Linked DNA regions of Homo sapiens: region 1 is linked to region 2. The links come from fine-mapping of genetic effects on gene expression. A gene starts in region 2. The other region holds a variant in brackets. All regions are shown on one strand. Distances are from middle to middle. Region 1 has its middle 89 kb from the start of HS3ST2. Region 2 holds the start of HS3ST2 (heparan sulfate-glucosamine 3-sulfotransferase 2).

Evidence for each region. PIP is the estimated chance that this variant, and not a neighbour inherited with it, causes the effect. A credible set is the group of variants that fine-mapping cannot tell apart.
Region 1: its variant is the best candidate, but not a certain one, in a credible set for the expression of HS3ST2 in lung (GTEx, PIP 0.51).

Annotation. Positions count from the first base shown.
Region 1 is chr16:22,720,402-22,729,954 of GRCh38, reverse strand. No RefSeq gene overlaps it. Among named protein-coding and RNA genes, the nearest start is that of HS3ST2, 89 kb to the left of the region's middle. The variant G/A (reference allele first, on the strand shown) is at 4,927.
Region 2 is chr16:22,810,095-22,819,647 of GRCh38, reverse strand. It overlaps HS3ST2 (heparan sulfate-glucosamine 3-sulfotransferase 2), which reads right to left and starts at 5,486. Exons shown (of 2, transcript NM_006043.2): 1 at 4,553-5,486. The coding sequence starts at 5,037. It overlaps LOC107984851 (collagen alpha-1(XVI) chain), which reads left to right and starts at 4,789. Exons shown (of 4, transcript XR_001752349.2): 1 at 4,789-4,941; 2 at 6,384-6,661; 3 at 7,247-7,365; 4 at 9,011-9,553.

The sequences.
Region 1 (9,553 bases), 90 kb after region 2:
GGTTGTTCCAGATTTTTTAAGTGTTATAAATAATACGGCAGTAAACATCTTGTATGTGCATCTCGGATTATTTCCCCAGTGCAAATTCTTTGCTGTGAAATTCTGGGTCAAGAACTAGATGTATCTGTTTTAATCTACATTAACACAGAAAAAAAGTTTATGTTAAGAAAAAACAAGATGAAATAACATGATTCATTTTTGCATATGTATAAAGAAAATACACAATACACAATTGATATATGTACATATATCTCTATGTATATACCTATATATGTATCTGTATATAGATATAGGTATCTATGCCTTTACCTATATATTTATGATATAAAAGATTTAGAAGATACACACCAAAAAGTTAACAATCCTCTTCTCAACATGGTGCAATCTGGAGTCATTTTTATTTCCTTCCTTTTGCTTCTATTTTCTAAGATGTTTATTCTGGTGGATGCTGTGGTGTGCCACCCAGATCCCCACTGCTGGCCTGATGAACTCCTTCCTCAGCTGCTGGGAACATTAGCCACTAACAACTCTCAGCCGAAACACTTTCCAAGAATTGTCCTCAGCTGAGAGCAGCCTCACTCAGGGTCACACACCTTTCTTGGGGATATCTACATCCAATAACTGGTCCCTTTCCCTAATCCCAGTTCCCGAGTTTTCCCGCGATCAGCTTAAGCCTCTGTTGCAACTGCATCACAGCCCAATTTCTTCCTCTGCCAGGCCTGCTTTCCTCCCTCCCTGAGTTGTGTGATTCCAAGGGTACTCCCTAGTAAACTGTATGCAAATTCCTCTCTTAGAGTCCACCTTCCAGGTTAGCCAAACTACAACATGTAAAAGGAACACTTACTAATTTGGCAATGAGTAAAACTTTTAATTAAAAAATTATTTTTCTTTAAAAATACCCTCCTGGTTTGGGTCTAGATGACCTTCCACTATGAAAAATTGTCCACTCTCCAAAGTGACCAGTGATGTAGTATGATATCTTCCCCAGGTCACCCTGGGAAAAGTACTGAAGGCAATTAATCAATTAGTCTCTTCATCTTCCAATAAATCCCCTCCCAGTGGTGCCTGACCCTGACCAGCTGACATTTCCATAATCCACTTGCCATCTTACGTGTCTTAAATGACTTCTCGTTGTCCCAAACTTGGAGATTTTAATCTCGTATATTAAGCCAGCAGGGCCCAGTAATTCCCTGAATGCATTTTTATTGACTTTGTAAATCAGACTTCCCCACATCAGGGCCTGTGACCAGGAAAGAGGTGTTTGTCTGTGAAATTGGCTGGACACAGACCATTGACTGTGATGATAACCAGTGATTTGTGAAGCCAGATAGACAAGCCACATGCACTAAGCAGATTAAAATATAACAAAACAAAAAGGTTCCATTACCAGGAATACTGTCAAAGGGCAGCAGGATGTTTGTGATAAAAGACGAAAACAAACTAATTCCAAGTCTGGAAGGAAGCCCAAAATAACACTTTGCTGTCTCTTCAGTCTGCCAAAGAGAAAGTGTGGGAATGCTAAACACAGCTAAGTAAACCAATTTCTGAAAGCTCTTTAGCAAAAGTCAGAAAAAGCTTGGCTCTCTCCCTACCTGGGCTCTCATTCACAAGGTTGTTCACACCTCCTTGCCTTCTGTGACAGGAATTGTTTACAAAAAGGTGCAGTAACAATTTTAAACAGGTTCAAAGAAGGACACTCTTCTGCGGGTCTCCCTCTCACTGAAGATAAAAATCAAATACAATCTTAGTCTGTCACCAGTTCTGACTTCATCTTCTGTTATTCTTACTCTTAACCCACTCCTTGCCAGCCACATTGGCTTCTTGGCTGTTACTCCACTAACACTAGCACATTCTGGCCTCAGGGTCTTTGAACTTGCTGTTCCTCTTACCTGTCATGCTCTTCCCACAGACATCTCCAATTCTACCTTACTCACGTCACTCTGATAAATGCAATGTCAGGTGATTTTGTCATTGTGCAAACATCATCGAGTGTACTTACGCAAACCTAGACGGTAGAGCCTCCTACATATCTAGGCTACATGGTATATAGCCGATTGCTCCTAGGCTAAAAACCTGCACAGCATGTTGTGGTACTGAATACTGTAGGCAACTGTAACACAATGGTAAGTATTTGTGTATCTAACCAAAGAAAACGTGCGGTAAAAATACGGTATTATAATCTTATGGGACTATCATCATACAAATGCAGTCTGTCATTGACCGAGACATTGTCATGCAGCACATGACTGTACTTATTGTGAACTGATATCGTATTACAATATTTGTATGCTTGCTTGTTTATTTTAAGCCTTGTTCCTCCAGAGAAGAGAATTGTCTCTTTTGTTCACTGCTATATCCCCAGTGCCTAGCACAGTAAATGCTCAAATATTTGTTGAATAAATGAATTATGTATTTTTTACTTCCTTTTCTTTTATCTCCATCTAAATGGCCTAATTCATTCATATATTTGTTCAACTAATGTTTGTTGAGCACCTACAACAAGCCAGGCATTGTGCTGAGTGCTGGCTCTTATAAGGATTATATGATGATATGTATAAAATTGTAATGCTCACTTAAAATTTAAGGTGCAACTTGGTAATAGTGTCCAAGACAGTTGTTGAAAAGAATTGTATTTGTGTCTTTTTGGTAGACTAAATAGGAAGATAAGTATCTTGCATTTAATGACAAAATGATTATCCACAATTGCTTAACCTCCTCCTCTGGATTAACTATTTACACTCTATTACATCCTGGACCTTGTCATGCCTGTACCATCTCTGATCATAACTTCTGGTCTTTCCAAAGCAGAGGCTGCTGACTGTCCATCACTGCTAATTCTCTGCAGATACTTGGCTGCTTAGCTGAGATGACATCTACACTTCCCAGCATCCCTTGCAGGTTGGTGCCTACACATGACTAATTCCTGCTCAATGGATGTGAGCTCAAGTGACGTGTACATTTTTTAGTTGTCTAGACCAGCACTGTCCAACAGAAATATAACATGAGCCACATATGTAATTCTGAATTTTCTAGTAGCTGTATTTTTTAAAAGTAAAAAGAAACAAGGGAAATTAACTTCAATAATATATTTTATTTAACCCAAAATGTCTAAAATATTATCATTTCAACATGTAAGCAATATAAGAAAGTATTAATCAGATACCTTATATTGTTTTCTTCCACGCTCAGTCTTCAAAATCCAGTGGGTATTTTACACTCACAGCACATTTCAATGAAGATGCTACATTTTCATTAGAAATAGTTGATCTGGGCTGGGCACAGTGGCTCATGTCTGTAATCTCAGCACTTTGGGAGGCAAAGGCAGGTGGATCACCTGAACCCAGGAGTTCGAGATCAGCCTGGGCAACATGAGGAAACCCCGTTTCTATAAAAAATACAAAAATTAGCTGGGCATGGTGGAGCACACCTGTGGTCCCAGCTCCTAGGGAGGCTGAGGTGGGAGGATCACCTGAGCCCAGGAGGTCAAAGCTGCAGTCCTCTATAATTGTGTCACTGCACTCCAGCCTGGGTGACAGTGCAAGTCCCTGTCTCAAAAAGAAAGAGAAAGAAAAAGAGAAAAAGAAAGAAAGAAAGAAAGAAAGAAAGAAAGAAAGAAAGAAAGAAAGAAAGAAAGAAAGAAAAGAAAAAGAAAGAAAGAAAGAGAAAGAAAAAGAAAAAGGAAGCGGGGGAGGAAGAAAGGAAGGAAGGGAGAGTTGATCTGTATTTCAGTTTTATACAATTTGTAGTTGAAAAAGCACATTCAATATATCCAAGTTATTCAAACATCCTTAAAAGTTATTCAAACATCCTTAAAAATAAGTGAATGGAGTATGATTTTTCAAAATGTAAATTTAAACTAATTAGAATGAAATTAAATACAAAATTCACGTCCTCATTCTCACTTGCCATATTTCAAGTGCGCAATAGCCACAGATGGTCGCCATGGCAGACAGCTCAGGTGCAGATCCTAGAAAAGGTAGCCATGCACTGCTCTGTGCAATCCTTCTTCCCATTGGCTGGGAGGTGCTAACAACTGGAGAAGCTGGGCTAGAGATGGTAACTATGTATCGGGGTTGGCAAACCCTTCTCACCCACCTCTGAACTGTTATGTGGGAAGAAATAAACTTCCATTCTGTTTAAACCTCTGTATTTTCTGGTCCTTCTGTTGCAGCAGCTTCTCCTATACCTTCCATAATACACCTTTCAGCACTTTTGTTTCAACTGTTTCCTAAGCTCCCTGGAGACTTCCAATACCTCCCACTCCCAAACCTTTATCTTGGCTTGATCTCTAAAAGCAATAATTATTAGTAGTAATATCATCAGTACTAGTATTTCCCAGCTTACACTTCCATTAGAGCATTACTTCAATCACTCCACAATATTTCAGCCACTATCTCAAAAATTGCTCAGCCTCAGACTCCAATGGGTAGAGATTGCCTGGGTTTGAATTGAGGCTCCACCACCGTGATGGTTAATTTCATGCATCTACTTGACTGGTCTATGGGATGCTCAGACATTTGTCAAGCATTATTCTACAAGTGTCTACGAGGGTGTTTCTGATGAGACTGACATTTGAATAGGTAAACTGAGTAAAGCAGATTTTCCTCCCTAATGTGGGCAGGCCTTGTCCAATCAGTTAAAGGCAGAAATAGAATAGAAAGTCTGGCATTTCCATAAGTGAGAGGGAATTCCTTCTGCTTGACAGTTCTTTCAACTGGGACATTTGTTCTTTCCTATCTTCAGACTGAAAGTGCAGCATGTGCTCTTTCTGGCTATAAAGGTTACCAGCGTTCAGACTGTAACTACACCATCAGCTCTCCTGGATCTCCAGCTTGCTGATAGCAGATCTTGGGACTTGTCAGCCTCCATAATCACATGAGCCAATTCTGAATGAGTGAATGAATGAATGAATATCCTATTGGTTCC[G/A]TTGTTTCTCTGGAGAACCCTGAGTAACACTGACTACTCACTGACTATGTAACCTCTCTGTGCCTCAGTTTCCTCATTTTTTAAATAGGGAAAATAATAATCCTCTATTAAATGTTAGTTATCATTATTGTTGTTGTTATTATTACAACATACTGCCAAGCACTGCTAGGGGAAAAGCATACATCATACAAGCACAAATGTGGAGACTTCAAATTCAACTCCAGTTTTGCTGGGTCACTCAGCATTCAGGGAAATCCTTTTTTTAAAATTTGAAATAGAGATAATTTAATTTATGAAGTCGTTTATGCAGATGTTAGAAGAGCTCATAAGCCTCAGGTAAGAGGAGATGTTTTTGCCATTCTTTCACTACAGGGGGAAAAGCAGAAGGCAGAGTTACTGGACGGGAATAAATGAGGACAACCCGGAACTGCGTGGAGGAACCTGGAGTCATGGAAGAGAAGTAGCTGCTGATGGAAACCACACTTAAAGCACAGGGAAAAAAAAGGGAGAAATACTCGCCTTTTTGCCTTATTCTGCCTTCCAAGCTCCAGCCAGTTCTTAATAGGGGCCATATGCTGCCAAGATTTAGCTGACAAGGTAGCCTGGGAAACACTACCTGCAGGGGTGAAGACCTGCCATACACATAGAGCAAGGGAATCACGAAGAATGGATCAGGAAGCACAAGGCCATGCACTATGTAGGCATACAATAGTTGTCTCACACTGAGCAAATGCAAAACCTACCTGCTGATGTTTATCCATGATCCTACTTCGCTCACAATTAGTGCGCCTCAGTGGAAACATCATCTTTTTTTTTTTCACTTTTTTTTTTTTTAACTGTACTTTCAGTTCTGGGATACATGTGCGGAATGTGCAGGTTTGTTACATACGAATACATGCGCCATGGTGGTTTGCCACACCCATCAACCCATCATCTACATTAGGTATTTCTCCTAATGCTATCCCTCCCTGGGAAATCCATTTATACTCCCCTTGTCATCTCCCTCTCCTGTACCCCTCAGCAGCTGATGAGCTTGAAACCCACGTGATCACTTCTCTGTCCCCTAAGTTGGCCCCAGCCCCCTTGGATTGGACCCTGCCTTCCATTTTGTAGAGAAAAGTATGGCTCTCAGCCATGAACTTGTTAATTAATTTTGTTTCATACCCTTATCCTTTTCATCTTGCGCCCTCTCCCTCCTTAGGGACATTCTTCCCCCATTAACTTTTTGGTTTTTTTTTTTTTTTTTTTTTTCCTTTTTGACACGGAGTCTTGCTCTGTCATCCAGGCTGGAGTGTAGTGCAATCTTGACTCATTGCAACCTCCTCCTCCCAGGTTCAAGTTCTTCTCGTGCCTCAGCCTCAGCCTCTGGAGTAGCTGGGATTACAGGTGTGTGCCACTACACCCGGTTAATTTTTGTATTTTTAGTAAAGATGGGGTTTCACCATGTTGGCCAGGCTGGTCTCGAACTCCTGACCTCAAGTGATCTACCCGCCTTGGCCTCCCAAAGTGCTGGTGAGAGGTGACAGCGTGTTGGCAGCCCTGGCAGCCCTCGTATCCCTCGTTTGCTCTCAGAGCCTCCTCGGCCTTGGTGTCCGCTCTGGCCATGCTCGAGGAGCCCTTCAGCCCACCACTGCGCTGTGGAGGCCCCTCTCTGGGCTGGCCGAGGCCAGAGCCGGCTCCCTGAGCTTGCGGGGAGGTGTGGAGGGAGAGGCACGGGCAGGAACCGAGGCTGCGTGCGGCGCTTGCTGGCCAGCGCGAGTTCCAGGTAGGCGTGGGCTCAGCGGGCCGGCACTCGGAGCTGCTGGCCAGCGCCACCGGCCCCGGGTGGTAAGGGGCGTAGCACTCAGGCCAGCAGCTGTGGAGGGTGCGACGGGTGCCCCAGGAGTGCCCGCCGGCCGACATTGCGCTCAAATTCTCACCAAGCCTCAGCTGCCTCCCCACGTGGGCTCCTGCGTGGCCGAGCCTCCCCGACAAGCTCCGCTCCCTGCTCCACGGCACCCGGTCCCATCCACCGCCCAAGGGCTGAGGAGTGTGGGCGCAGGCTAGGCGCGGGACTAGTGGGCAGCTCCACTGGTGGCCCTGGTGCGGGATCCACTGGGTGAAGCCAGCTGGGCTCCTGAGTGTAGTGGGGACTTCGAGAACCTTTATGTCTAGCTAAGGGATTGTAAATACACCAATCAGCACTCTGTGTCTAGCTCAAGGATTGTAAATGCACCAATCAGCACCCTGTGTCTAGCTCAGGGTTTGTGAATGCACCAATCAGTGCTCTGTGCCTAGCTAATCTAGCGGGACTTGGAGAACTTTTGTGTCTAGCTCAGGGATTGTAAACGCACCAATCAGCACCCTGTCAAAACAGACCAACCAGCTCTCTGTAAAACAGACCAATGAGTTCTCTGTAAAATGGACCAATCAGCAGGATGTGGGTGGGGCTAGATAAGGGAATAAAAGCAGCCAGCAGCAGCTGCCCGAGCCAGTAGTGGCTACCTGCTCAGGTCGTATTCCACGCTGTAGAAGCTTTGTTCTTTGGCTCTTTGCAAAAAATCTTGCTGCTGCTCAGTCTTTGGGTCTGCACTACCTTTACGAGCTGTAACACTCACTGCCAAGGTCTGCAGCTTCACTCTTGAAGCCAGCGAGACCATGAACCCACCATGAGAAATGAACAACTATGGATGTGCTGCCTTTAGAGCTGTAAACACTCACTGTGAAGGTCTGCGACTTCACTCCTGAAACCAGCGAGATCACAAACCCACTAGAAGGAAGACACTCCGAACGTATCCAAACATCAGAAGGAACGAATTCTGGACACATCACCTTTAAGAACTGTAACACCACGAGGGTCCGCGGCTTCATTCTTGAAGTCAGTGAGACCAAGCACCCACTAAGTCTGGACACACGGGGATTACAGGCATCAGCCACCGTGCCCAGTCCACTTTTCCTTCTTTTTCAGGTTCTAGCCTCTCCCTTTCCCATTGCTCCTTCTACTTTAACCAAAAATCAGGCCTGAGGCCATCATGTTAGAGGCATGGCTGGGTCCTCCTCCTCCCTGGTGCCCGATTCTCCTCCTACCCCACTTGTCAAGCTCTCTCAAATGCTGATCTGCACCTGCCATTTCCTGGCTTTAGTGCCACTCCCTCCAGAGCAGCTGGTGAAAGGAAATGAGCCATGCAGATTGCTGGGGTCGGAATATTCTAGACAGAGGGATCAAAATGCGCAGGTTCGGAGGTGGGAGTGTGCTTGGTTTCGTTGAGGAACAAACATCCAGGCCAGTGTGGAACAGAGGGAGAAAGGAAGAGCGTCTTGGCAGTGAAACCCAGGCAGCAGCTGTGGTCCAGATGTGGCAGCAGGGAGTTGGCTTTGACTCTGAAGTGGAGAGGTATGGGGGCGGTGGGGGGGAGGTGTGTGGTTAGAATACAAGTGGTGTGCTCTGACTTACATTTTAAATGTCTCCTTTGGCAGAGAGGCAATAGCAGAAACAGGGAGACCCATCAGAAGGCAATTACAATAACGCAGGCAAGAGAAGACAGGGCTTAGATCGGAATGGAAGCATCGCAGGCATCGAGAGATGCAGTCTAATTGGATATATTTTGAAGGCAGAGCCAAGAGAATCATCTGGTTCTATGGACATGGACTGTCCGAGAAAGAGAAACATGAAGGATGCCCCCAAGGCTTTGTCCTTCCTCACCTGCCACCCACCCATATTGCTGCCACCTGCGGCCACCTGGCCTCCTTCCCCAGGGCTGTCATAAGCGTTGCTTTTATAACAGCCTAAAATGTAAAACTCTAGCCTAAATTTGTCCCTAAAATTGCAAAGGTAAATATATATAATAAGATAATCATAGCAGGAAGACAGGGAAGAGAAAAAAAATGTGGCCGGGCACTGTGACTCACGCCTGTAATCCCAGCACTTTGGGAGGCCAAGGCAGGTAGATCACCTGAGGTCAGGAGCTTGAAATCACCCTGGCCAACATGGCGAAACCCTGTCTCTACTAAAAATACAAAATTAGCCGAACGTGGTGGTACATGCCTGTAATTCCAGCTACTGCAGAGGCTGAGGCAGGAGAATCACTTGAAACCGGGAGGCAGAGGTTGCAGTGAGCTGAGATCCTGCCATTGCACTCTAGCCTGGAAAACAAGAGTGAAACTCTGTCTCAAAAAAAAAGAAAAAGGAATGTAGTGAAAAATTAGTTAAATCCTCATCCGTCATGGCTGGCAGTCAATACATAATGTCCACAATTGATAAATCAAGAAACAACAGTTTTTGCATATTATGTAGAGATGTGGAGGTAACTACTAGAAGAAATATTTTGACCGGGTGCAGTGGCTCACACCAGCACTTTGGGAGGCCAAGGCGGGCAGAGCACATGAGGTCAGGAGTTCAAGACTAGCCTGCTCAACACAGTAAAATCCTGTCTTTACTAAAAATACAAAAATCAGCCTGGCATGGTGGCATGTCCCTGTAATGCCGGCTACTCAGGAGGCTAAGGTGGGAGGATCACTTGAACCTGGGGGCAGAGGTTGCAATGAGCCAAAATCACGCCTCTGCACTCCAACCTGGGTGACAGAGCAAGGCTCCATCTCAGAAACAAAAACGAAAAAAAACTATTTGTATTGTTTTGTTTCTTCCCCT
Region 2 (9,553 bases):
TCTATCAAAATTTGGACACCAGAACACAGAGTCAATTATCACATATTAACTTGCTCTTGTTGGCATTTCAATGCATTTAGAAAAGATACACTTCCTCCACACACACATTCCCCTGCCATACCGAAACACCAGCAAAATTGAGAACACTTCAGACATATCTCAGCTTTCCCTGTGACTCTAAAAACTACTACACACAGCAAAGCTTATATCTGTTTATAAAAGATGACCCTGAAGAGTCTATTTCACATCCAAACTTCCTTAGAATGGAGAGCATCCTAAAGATAACCTTAGATTTGGAAAAACATTTTCATGTAGATAGTCTTACTTGATTTTTATAAGGTTGCAAAGCAGTTCAGGCATCATTGCCATTTCACAGGTGAGCAGACTGACACCCAGATATGTGAACTGACTTTCTGTTAACATGGAAGGAGGGAAGGAAAGAGAAAAGGAAGGGAGGAAGGGAGGAAGGAAGGAGGGAAGGAAGGAAGGAGGGAAGGAAGGAAGGAAGGAAGGAATGAAGGAAGGAAGGAAGGAAGGAAGGAAGGGAGGGAGGGAGGAAGGGAGGGAGGGAGGGAAGGAAGGAAGGAGGGAAGGAAGGAAGGAAGGAATGAAGGAAGGAAGGAAGGAAGGGAGGGAGGGAGGGAGGGAGGAAGGAAGGAGGGAAGGAAGGAAGGAGGGAAGGAAGGAAGGAAGGAAGGAAGGAAGGAAGGGAGGGAGGGAGGGAGGGAAGGAAGGAAGGAGGGAAGGAAGGAAGGAAGGAATGAAGGAAGGAAGGAAGGAAGGGAGGGAGGGAGGGAGGGAGGAAGGAAGGAGGGAAGGAAGGAAGGAAGGAAGGAAGGAAGGAAGGGAGGGAGGGAGGGAAGGAAGGAAGGAGGGAAGGAAGGAATGAAGGAAGGAAGGAAGGAAGGGAAGGAGGGAGGGAGGGAAGGAAGGAAGGAGGGAAGGAAGGAAGGCAGGCAAGGAGGGAGGGAGGAAGGAAGGAAGGAAGGAAAAGGAGAAGGGAAAGGGGAGAGAGGGAAGGAGGAAGGGAAGGGAAGGAATAAAGAGGAAAGTATGGAACTATCTTTATAGCAATTGATTAATTCCTCAGCCCGATTTAGTAACAGCAGCAGCATCAGAAACTAATATTTTTAATACTAACAGAACTAATAGTGATAACAGGAGTGTTGTAGTAATTAGTAGCAATAACAGTAGTAACATTACTGCCTTGTCTTTATATATCATAGAATTTTCCAGGGCAATTTCATGTACAGTTTTGCATTTATTCTTCACAACACGTTTCTAGGATAGTTACTACAGGTCCCATTCCATGATGAGGAAGCTGAGACTTGGGAGAATCACCTTTCTTCAAATCATACAGCACCTAGGTGACCACCTCTGGTCTTCTGACTGTGGTTCCCTGTCCTGGTTCCCTCATCAGCCTGGTGTTGCTTTGCCCACCTGTCCAAGCAGCTAGGAGATACCACCCTGCAGCTCTTACCTCGGGGAGGAAATGTGGGTGGGGGAGAACCCAGGCCAGACACATAGTTGAGGTAAGCATCAGAGATGGCATGGCAGAAAGACAGCAAATTGGAGAGAACCCACTGCAGAAGGCTGGGCTCTCTGGTAGTGGCCTGAACGGGAGTGGTTCCCAAGAAGGATCAGGCTAAGGACAAGAAGGTGCAGACTCTGTCTCCTGGTCTCTCCAAATGATGGTGTCTTTCTGGCTATATCACTCGGCCTTCAGCTTTATCTCCATTTACCCACAGAAAGAAGCCCCTCCTTTGGGTTAAGGGTAAAGCTTTTGATTTTTCCACTATCTGGATTTCAGCCTCCTGATCAGGAAGTTATCACCAGGGGCTTTGATGTGGGCAGATCATACTAAGATCCACACTGCCTGCAACTCTGCACCTCCCCCTTTGGAAAGCACAGTCCACTCCAATGGGTGCAAGGGTTCTTTGGCTATGTCTGCCCAGTGGACCCTGGCTTTATGATGGCAAGCTGTGAACTGACAAGGCAGTGGACAGAGAGCGGAACATCCTGTCACCCACCGTACCTAGCTCATGGGATTCAGGAAGAAAGTAAGAACATGGGTTTTAAAAGATTCCAGAAATCCCCATGATTTCTGCAGTTAATGTGTATGACTTGGTCATAATAAAAAGAAATGTACAAAAATGTTCTTTACATACAGAAAGATGTTCTGGAGGTTATGGAAACAGCATCTAAGTGGGGTAGTATTACCCTGCACAGAAATGGCAATCCACAAGCTAAACACTTGACTCTAGGGGTGTGGATTTGTAACTGAAAGAAGCACAAACCACACAGCCTTTTCCTGACACTGGAGCCTCCCAGCCTTCCTGGTCAAGCAATGGGGAGAGGGCAATTACGACCAGACCTCTAGGATAGTCTTTTAGAAATATAAAGTGGGGAAAGGTGGTAGAGGGGGAGAGAAGAGAGAAGCAGAGCTGTCAGCATGCTTGATGTTAAATAAAACCTACCAAGACTCAGCTGAGAATTTTAGCAGAATCCAAATGTGCTAAAAAAAAATAAATAAATAAAAAATAAGACATGGCTTCCCTCTCTAAGGTTCACAGCTAAGCTTGCTTAGAATCACACATGCCAAGGTTAAAAATAAAAAGCAGCCATCCCTGAATGACATGGGCTCCAGGATGGAAGCCTGAGGTATGCTGTTTAGTGGTGGAAGGAAGAGAGGGGAGGGAGGAGAGTCTGGGTTCAGGGCATAGGTATTTATTGGAGGGCACACTATCTGAAAGCCAGATGCTCAGAATTTTGCTGTTTTGCACTTAAAAGGCACTTCGCATTGGCAAAAGGTGTCATAATGATCTTCAGATTTTCCATCGAGGAAATGCTGGCCTGCATTCGAATGTGGTCATGGCTGACCCACTCTGGGCTCTGCTGTTCAATGTGTTTGCCTCCTCCATCCCGGGATCTGACTCAGACAGTGTCCACATGCACCTAGACGGGATGCCCATGAGTCACAGCTTGGAAAGCACAGTGGGCTATTGGCATTGGCATGAAGCCAGATCTGCCACTCTGTGCCACCCTACCCTATTAACCAGACATAATGGTGCTGGGGCCACCCACAGGCTAGCTAGCCCCTGGTTGGCTGCAATGGGGACAGACTATGTGTCTGCCTGCTAAGGATGATGCATGACCCACTCGTCCCCACAACTACAACCATTGCGAGCCAGGAGTAACCTGCAAAGGTGCTAAATCAGGCCTGCGGTCCCCCTACTTTTGGTAAATCCAGGGCCCTCTATTATAAGCCCAGTGGGGTCCTCTTTCTAACAAAGTTGTCCCTTGTCCAATATGCATATGACCTCTACTGCCTAAAGCTGTAGATAAAAACAGCAGATTTAGCCTCAGCTACTCTGTCAGCTACCATGTTACCCCTCCCCAACGTCATTACTATGCAGATGTTTCTAGAAAGTCTTCAAAGGGTCAGGTGAATTGTGAGAATTCTGTGACCTATGTGTTAACAGGGAGCCGGGACATTACACCACCCACATGTGGGCCAGTCCTACACTTCAGCACCATACAGGGCTAGGGAGGCAGAAAGGCATTGAGGCGTGGACGCTGCCACCTCACAGAAGCTTTGGTCTGTGCCTTGACTCCCCCAGTGGGGATAATTCTCCTCCCTGGCATGCATGGGAAGCATAGACAGTCTATGCATGACTGGCTGCCCCTAGCACCCTTGCTAGCCTTCACCCGCAGGGCCCACCTTCAAATTCCACATTTTGGCTGCTGGTTTAGAAGCATCACTTAAAGTGAAGTGCCTTTTTTACACCTTTAAGGCACTTCAGAAAAGCCTTGGAAGGTATACAGGGCAAGGGCTGTTTTCCTGCCCATTGGGATGGATGAGAAAATAGAGGCTGATAGAGTTTAAGAAACTTGCTCAAGCTTAAGTGACAGACCCAAGACTCGAATCCAGGGCTCTTTCCACTACTCAAAGACCACCTACCAGGGCCAGAGCTACTGGGGGTCTCAGCCCCAGTACAGCAGCAAATACCTGGGTTTGAGATTGAGACTCCCTAAGGCATCTTTCTTACTGGAGACCTCTGGCGATGCACTGTCATTTGGCCTGAACTCTGGGGACCTTTCCCAAACAGAGCCTTGCTGCAAGGGGTCTCTGAACTGCCTTATCTTTCTCAGGGTCCTTCAGGGGCTGGGTACCAGCAAAGACCTACAGAGGGTTAGGATGGTGCCGTGTTCAGGCAGCACAGGTCCTCGCCTGTCCCTTCCTTGGGCACCCTAAGGGCTGGTCACAGAGGGAGTTAGCCCTTTAGCTGGCACTTAGGTTTGACTGGAGATAATCCTTTTCCAACGACTCCAGTGACGAGGGAACGCCCTTTGCAGTTCCAGAAACTGCCCGTCTAGATTATCACTGGGAAGTTCTGGGTAAATTCTGCTATAGCCCCCCATGGCCCTGTGTGTCAGCCTGAACCCATACAATGAGTTGGGTTAAAAGAAAGAGAAAACACAAGAGACGGATGGCTCTCCCAATGGAAGCGATCAGAGACCCGGCGCACGGAGCGGAGCTCCTGGTCCTTACCTGTACCAATCCAGCCCGCGGCCGTAGTTCCTGTCAAAGAAGTGGGGTTCCGTGCCCAAGGCCCGCACGTCCGGGTGTACTCGGATAAACTCCAGCACGGCCCGGGTGCCCCCCTTCTTCACGCCCACAATGAGGGCTTGGGGCAACCGCTTGGTACCCAGCTTGGGTGAGCCGGAGTGGTTGGAACCGGAGAGGCGAGGGGCGGGCACGGCGGCGGCGGGCGCGCTGGGAGCGCTGGGCTCGCTGGGCGTCGGCCCGGAGGGATCACAGGGGCGGGACTTCTGGAGAAGTTTCTGGCCGCCCGCGCTGGGGCCGCGGAGGCAGCGAGGCGCGCCGAGGAGGCGGCTCCGACCCAGGTCGTCGCAGCAGCACAGGAAGCTGTAACACAGGTAAGTGCAGGAGAGCGAGAGCGTGAAGGCGAAGAGCAGCCTGCGCGCCCTCCGCGGCTGAGGTGGCCCCGCGCGGCCCAGGACCCTATAGGCCATGGCTCCATGGGCCCGCGCCGGGGGTCATGGTTTCCGAGGGGGCACCGGCGGCTGAGCTGCTGTGGCCCTGCGGTCGCCTAGAGGGCTCGCGTGGCGCTGCCACGGCCACGCGGGTCGGGCGTTGGGGGCGCCGTCTTCTCCGGGGGCTGCTGACCAGGGTGCGCACAGTGCCAGGGGGTCCCGGGGGCAGCGGCTCCTCGGGGAACAGGCGGTTGCATTTCCAGCATCTCCCGGTCCTAGGCGATGGGGCTCCGGGCAGCCGGGCGGCTCGGGCGCTCCCAGGCTCTTACGTGCGCCGGGTTCGGAGCGCGCCCAGCGCCCGAAGCCCCATTCCTGATCCTCGGAGCGCCGCTCACGAAACGCTCGGCGGCGGCGCGGCTGTGCGGGCTGGCGGGTGGACCGGACGGTGGCGCTGGCGCCGGCCGCGATCTGGCTCTTCGGGAAATGCCGAGCGGAGCGCGCTGCCGGCTCTATTTAAGGAGTGGCCTGACGTCAGCCGCGCGGGTCCCCCGAGCCCGCGCCGCGCCCAGGGACCTGGCCCGCCCCCTGCGCCCCCACTCTCTTACCCCTCCCAGAAACACAGCACGCGGGCCCTCCCCATGCAGGCCACTCCCTACGGAGCCCCAGGCCAGCTTTGGGGCGGTGAAACGAAGGTGTCAAGGCATAGTACTCCTCCGGGAGGCTGGACACCCCCACCACGCTGGCCTCTCGACATCCAGGGACACGAATCCAGGTCGAGATCGCGCCGACATGCAGACCAGACAGACCCAGACGCAGACGCAGGCACCCTGCCCTGATGCGCGGTCCCACCACCCTGACCCGCACACGCACGCACAGGCACAGAAGCACACGCGCCCTAGCCCGGACACACCCCCACACCCACGCGGGGGTGGGGAGGAGAAGTCCCCTAACCTGGGCCCAGATACACCGACAAGGACACTCCCCCCGCTCTCGACATCTCGCCAAATGGACACACACAGCCCGGAATCGGACACCGAGCGCACGCACGCCCTGGACTGGGACACGCGCTGTAGACGGGATGGGTGGAGGAGCCGAGCGTGAGTGAGATTCCGTGACTATTCACCCAGCTTCTTAGCCCCCAGCGCGCTGACTCACACCCCGGCGGCTCGCTCTGTCTCGCACCTATGAGGCACGCGCGCACCCCAACCCATTGTCACCCCACCTCTCCCCGGGCCTGCCGGAGAGCGAGCCCCGGAGCGGCAGACTCCGCGTCAGGAGGGTTCCTCTCTTAGCAGCCGCCGCCTAGCGGTAGACTGCTCCCCGGGGAGCTGTCCAGGGTACCAGAGGGTCGCCGAGGGCTGAGTGAGGAGGGCTTCTTCACACAGAGACACTAGGAGGAGGAAACAGAGTACAAGGAGAACGTATCCAGGAGCAATTCCACTTCGAATGATTCCTAAGTGAATGCCTACAGGACAGTTCTCGGTGACCATGTCCAGAACAGGCATAAGTGACGATCCCCAGTACTTCCCTGAGGGACCACACTGGTACCTTGGATCAGAACCCTGCATCAGAACAGGCCTAAATGGCCATGGCTAAGAACACGGCTGAGTTGTCCTTCAACAGCAATGCCAATGCCAATTCACCATGTCCGAGTGTTCACAAGGTGAGTGCCCTCCACCACCACCCAGCCATAGAATGTCTAGATGACCACCATGACCCCCACCCTGATCAGGGTATAACTGACTTCCTTCCTCAGGCTGTAAACTGATCATTAGGTTCTGTGGATCTTAGCCCAAACCAGAAAATATTTTGTCCCCAAACTAGTCCCATCCCTAGAAACCTTAAACCAATTCTACGGCAGATAATAATAATAGCTGCCAACTTTGTATCAAGCACCTGGCATGGGTTAACTGATTAAATATTCACAACCTATGAAGTTGTTACCATTACCCTGGCATCACTTTGCTGTCTTAATTCTAATAGTAGCTAGCATTTATTGAGTGCTTGTTTTATGGGAGTTATGCGCTAATCACTTGACATGCACTACCTCATTTATCTTTGGAGATAGGTATTATTGTAATTTCTAATCTACAGGCAGTGATAAGAAGATTTAACAAACATATACACAGTAACTGGCAGAGCTGGGATTAAACCCGGGCAGTCTTGACTCCAAGATTCAAGCTCTTAGTTACAGCACTTTGCAGCTTCCTAACTTCCTTTGACCATTATTCATATAATTCCATCCTAGGCTCCTCTCCTGGATGTAAGCTAATTTGTCTATGTCTCTTCTAAAATCTCACACCTGGGACTGCGCGAGGAATTTCAGATATGGATTGAAAAGTTCAACAGGACTCTCACCTCTCTTTTGTAAGTTCTATTTCTAGTAATGCCACCTAAGACTCCATTATCTTTTTCTTGTGGCTATATCACACTGCTGACATCTCAAACTTGCAGCCAAGTAACATCTCTAAATGTTTCTTACAAGTGCTGCTGATTAAGGCACAGCTACCCCATACTGTGCTTGTACAGTGGGCCTTTTTGGACCCAATGTGTAGGTCCTTATAGATTTGACTTGATTGCATTTCATCTTGTCTCATCAGTTCGCTGCCCTAGTTTTTTTTAAATGTCTATTTGAAGTCAAACCACGAGGTAGCTTTCATTTATTCAAAAAGAAAAAGTAGAAAGATTGTATCCCAGCTTTACCCTTTATTCCAGGTGTACTTTGGGCAAGTGGACCCCCTTTAAGCCTCAGGTTCCTCAGCTGTAAAATGGGACGCTATGATTCACCTTAAAAGTCTCTCAAAGTTTAGATGTTGCATGATTCTATGATTCCATTACCCAAAGCATGAACCACTCACTTGGCATCATGTAATTTCCACAGTTGATCACAATTTAATTAATTCCTCATTCTAATTGTTAATAAAAATGTCAAAACAAATATACTTAAAGGAGTTCTTCTTCTTCTTTTGGGTGAGGGGAAGTGTCTCACTCTGTTGACCATGCTGGCATGCAGTAGTGCAATCATAGCTCATGCTGCAGCCTCCACTTCCTGGGCTCAAGGGATCCTCCTGCCTCAGCCTCCTGAGTAGCTAGGACTACAGGCATGTGCCACCACACCTAGCTAGTTTTTTAATTTTTTGTAGAGATGAAGTCTTACTGTGTTGCCCAAGCTGGTCTTGAACTCCTGAGCTCAAGTGATCCTCCTGCCTCAGCTTCCCAAAGTGCTAGAATTACAGACATGAGCCACAATGCCTGGCCTGGAAGGAGCTCTTATATATACTTTGAACAATTATTCACATCATGAACCTGCTATTTTTGTATTCCATTGTTAAAATTACAAGGTTAAATGTGGAGTCATCTGCTGTGATCAGTACTATTTCCCTTAGAAAATAAAACATGAATATAATGATTTCTCATAATTCTGTGCTTGGCTTAATTTTTAAATAATTTTTAACCTTTGAATTCATAAACTGTGATATCCCTGGGTACTCACATATATCAAAACCAGGAAGATTTTCCTCTTCAAATTTCCAATCAGAGTAATGACTGACTTGGATAGAATTTTTTAGGAAGTGAGACATTGGACATACCTGCCCATCTCCTAAACCTTTATCTGTTTACAGTAGCAAACGTGATTCTGCTTTGGGGGTATCAGGTAGGATTATGCTGGGTTGTGTAGTTTGTCAATTAACACCCACTTAAGCAAGGTATATGTTTATTTTTGTAATCACATGAAAGTCCAGATGAAGGTACTTTAGGGCTTGTATGGAAGCTCCAAAGTGTTTGGGACCCAGGCTCCCTCTATCTTGTTACTCTACCATGCATTTCCTCCATTCTAAAGTCACCACATAGTCTACAATGACTTATTCATCTGCAGCCAGAATGTTCACATTCTGGTCATTAGTAAATATGTAAAGACATGCCATATCTGTTTAAGGACATTTCTTGGAAGTTGCCTGTATTATTTCAACTCGTATTCAATTTGACAGCATTTTATCATTTGACTTTCTAGCTTCAAGAGATGCTTCAAAATGCAGTCTTGATTCTGGATGGCTGTATGCCTGGCTAACACTTTGAGATTTTGGTATCAAGAAAGAACTAAAGAATGGTTATGGAGGACAACTAGTAATCCTTGCCATCCTTGGACAAACAGTTTTCCCTCTTTTATTCCCATGTGGTTTGTATGGGTTGAACATAGTTCAAAGACAGGCATATGACCAAGCCTGACATCATCACTTTCTAATTATATTTCAAGAACTGAAAGTAACTCAAATCTTTCTAGTGAGAATAAACCACACAACATTTGTGAAAACTATTGGAAAAGAGAAACTTCTTTTTCTGAGATGATGAATTAATCTAAAATAAGCCTGAAGCTTCCAATGGTCATCTCTGCTATCAAGAGGAGAAACCAACAATAAAGCCAACAAAGAGGAGAGCAGAACTGATGGAGGGAGAATTAGATTCCTGATAATATCCTTTGAACCTCTGAATCTAGCCATGCGGAATGCATGGACCCTGGACTTTATTGCTGCAGTGATTAGCTATCTTTCTGTTA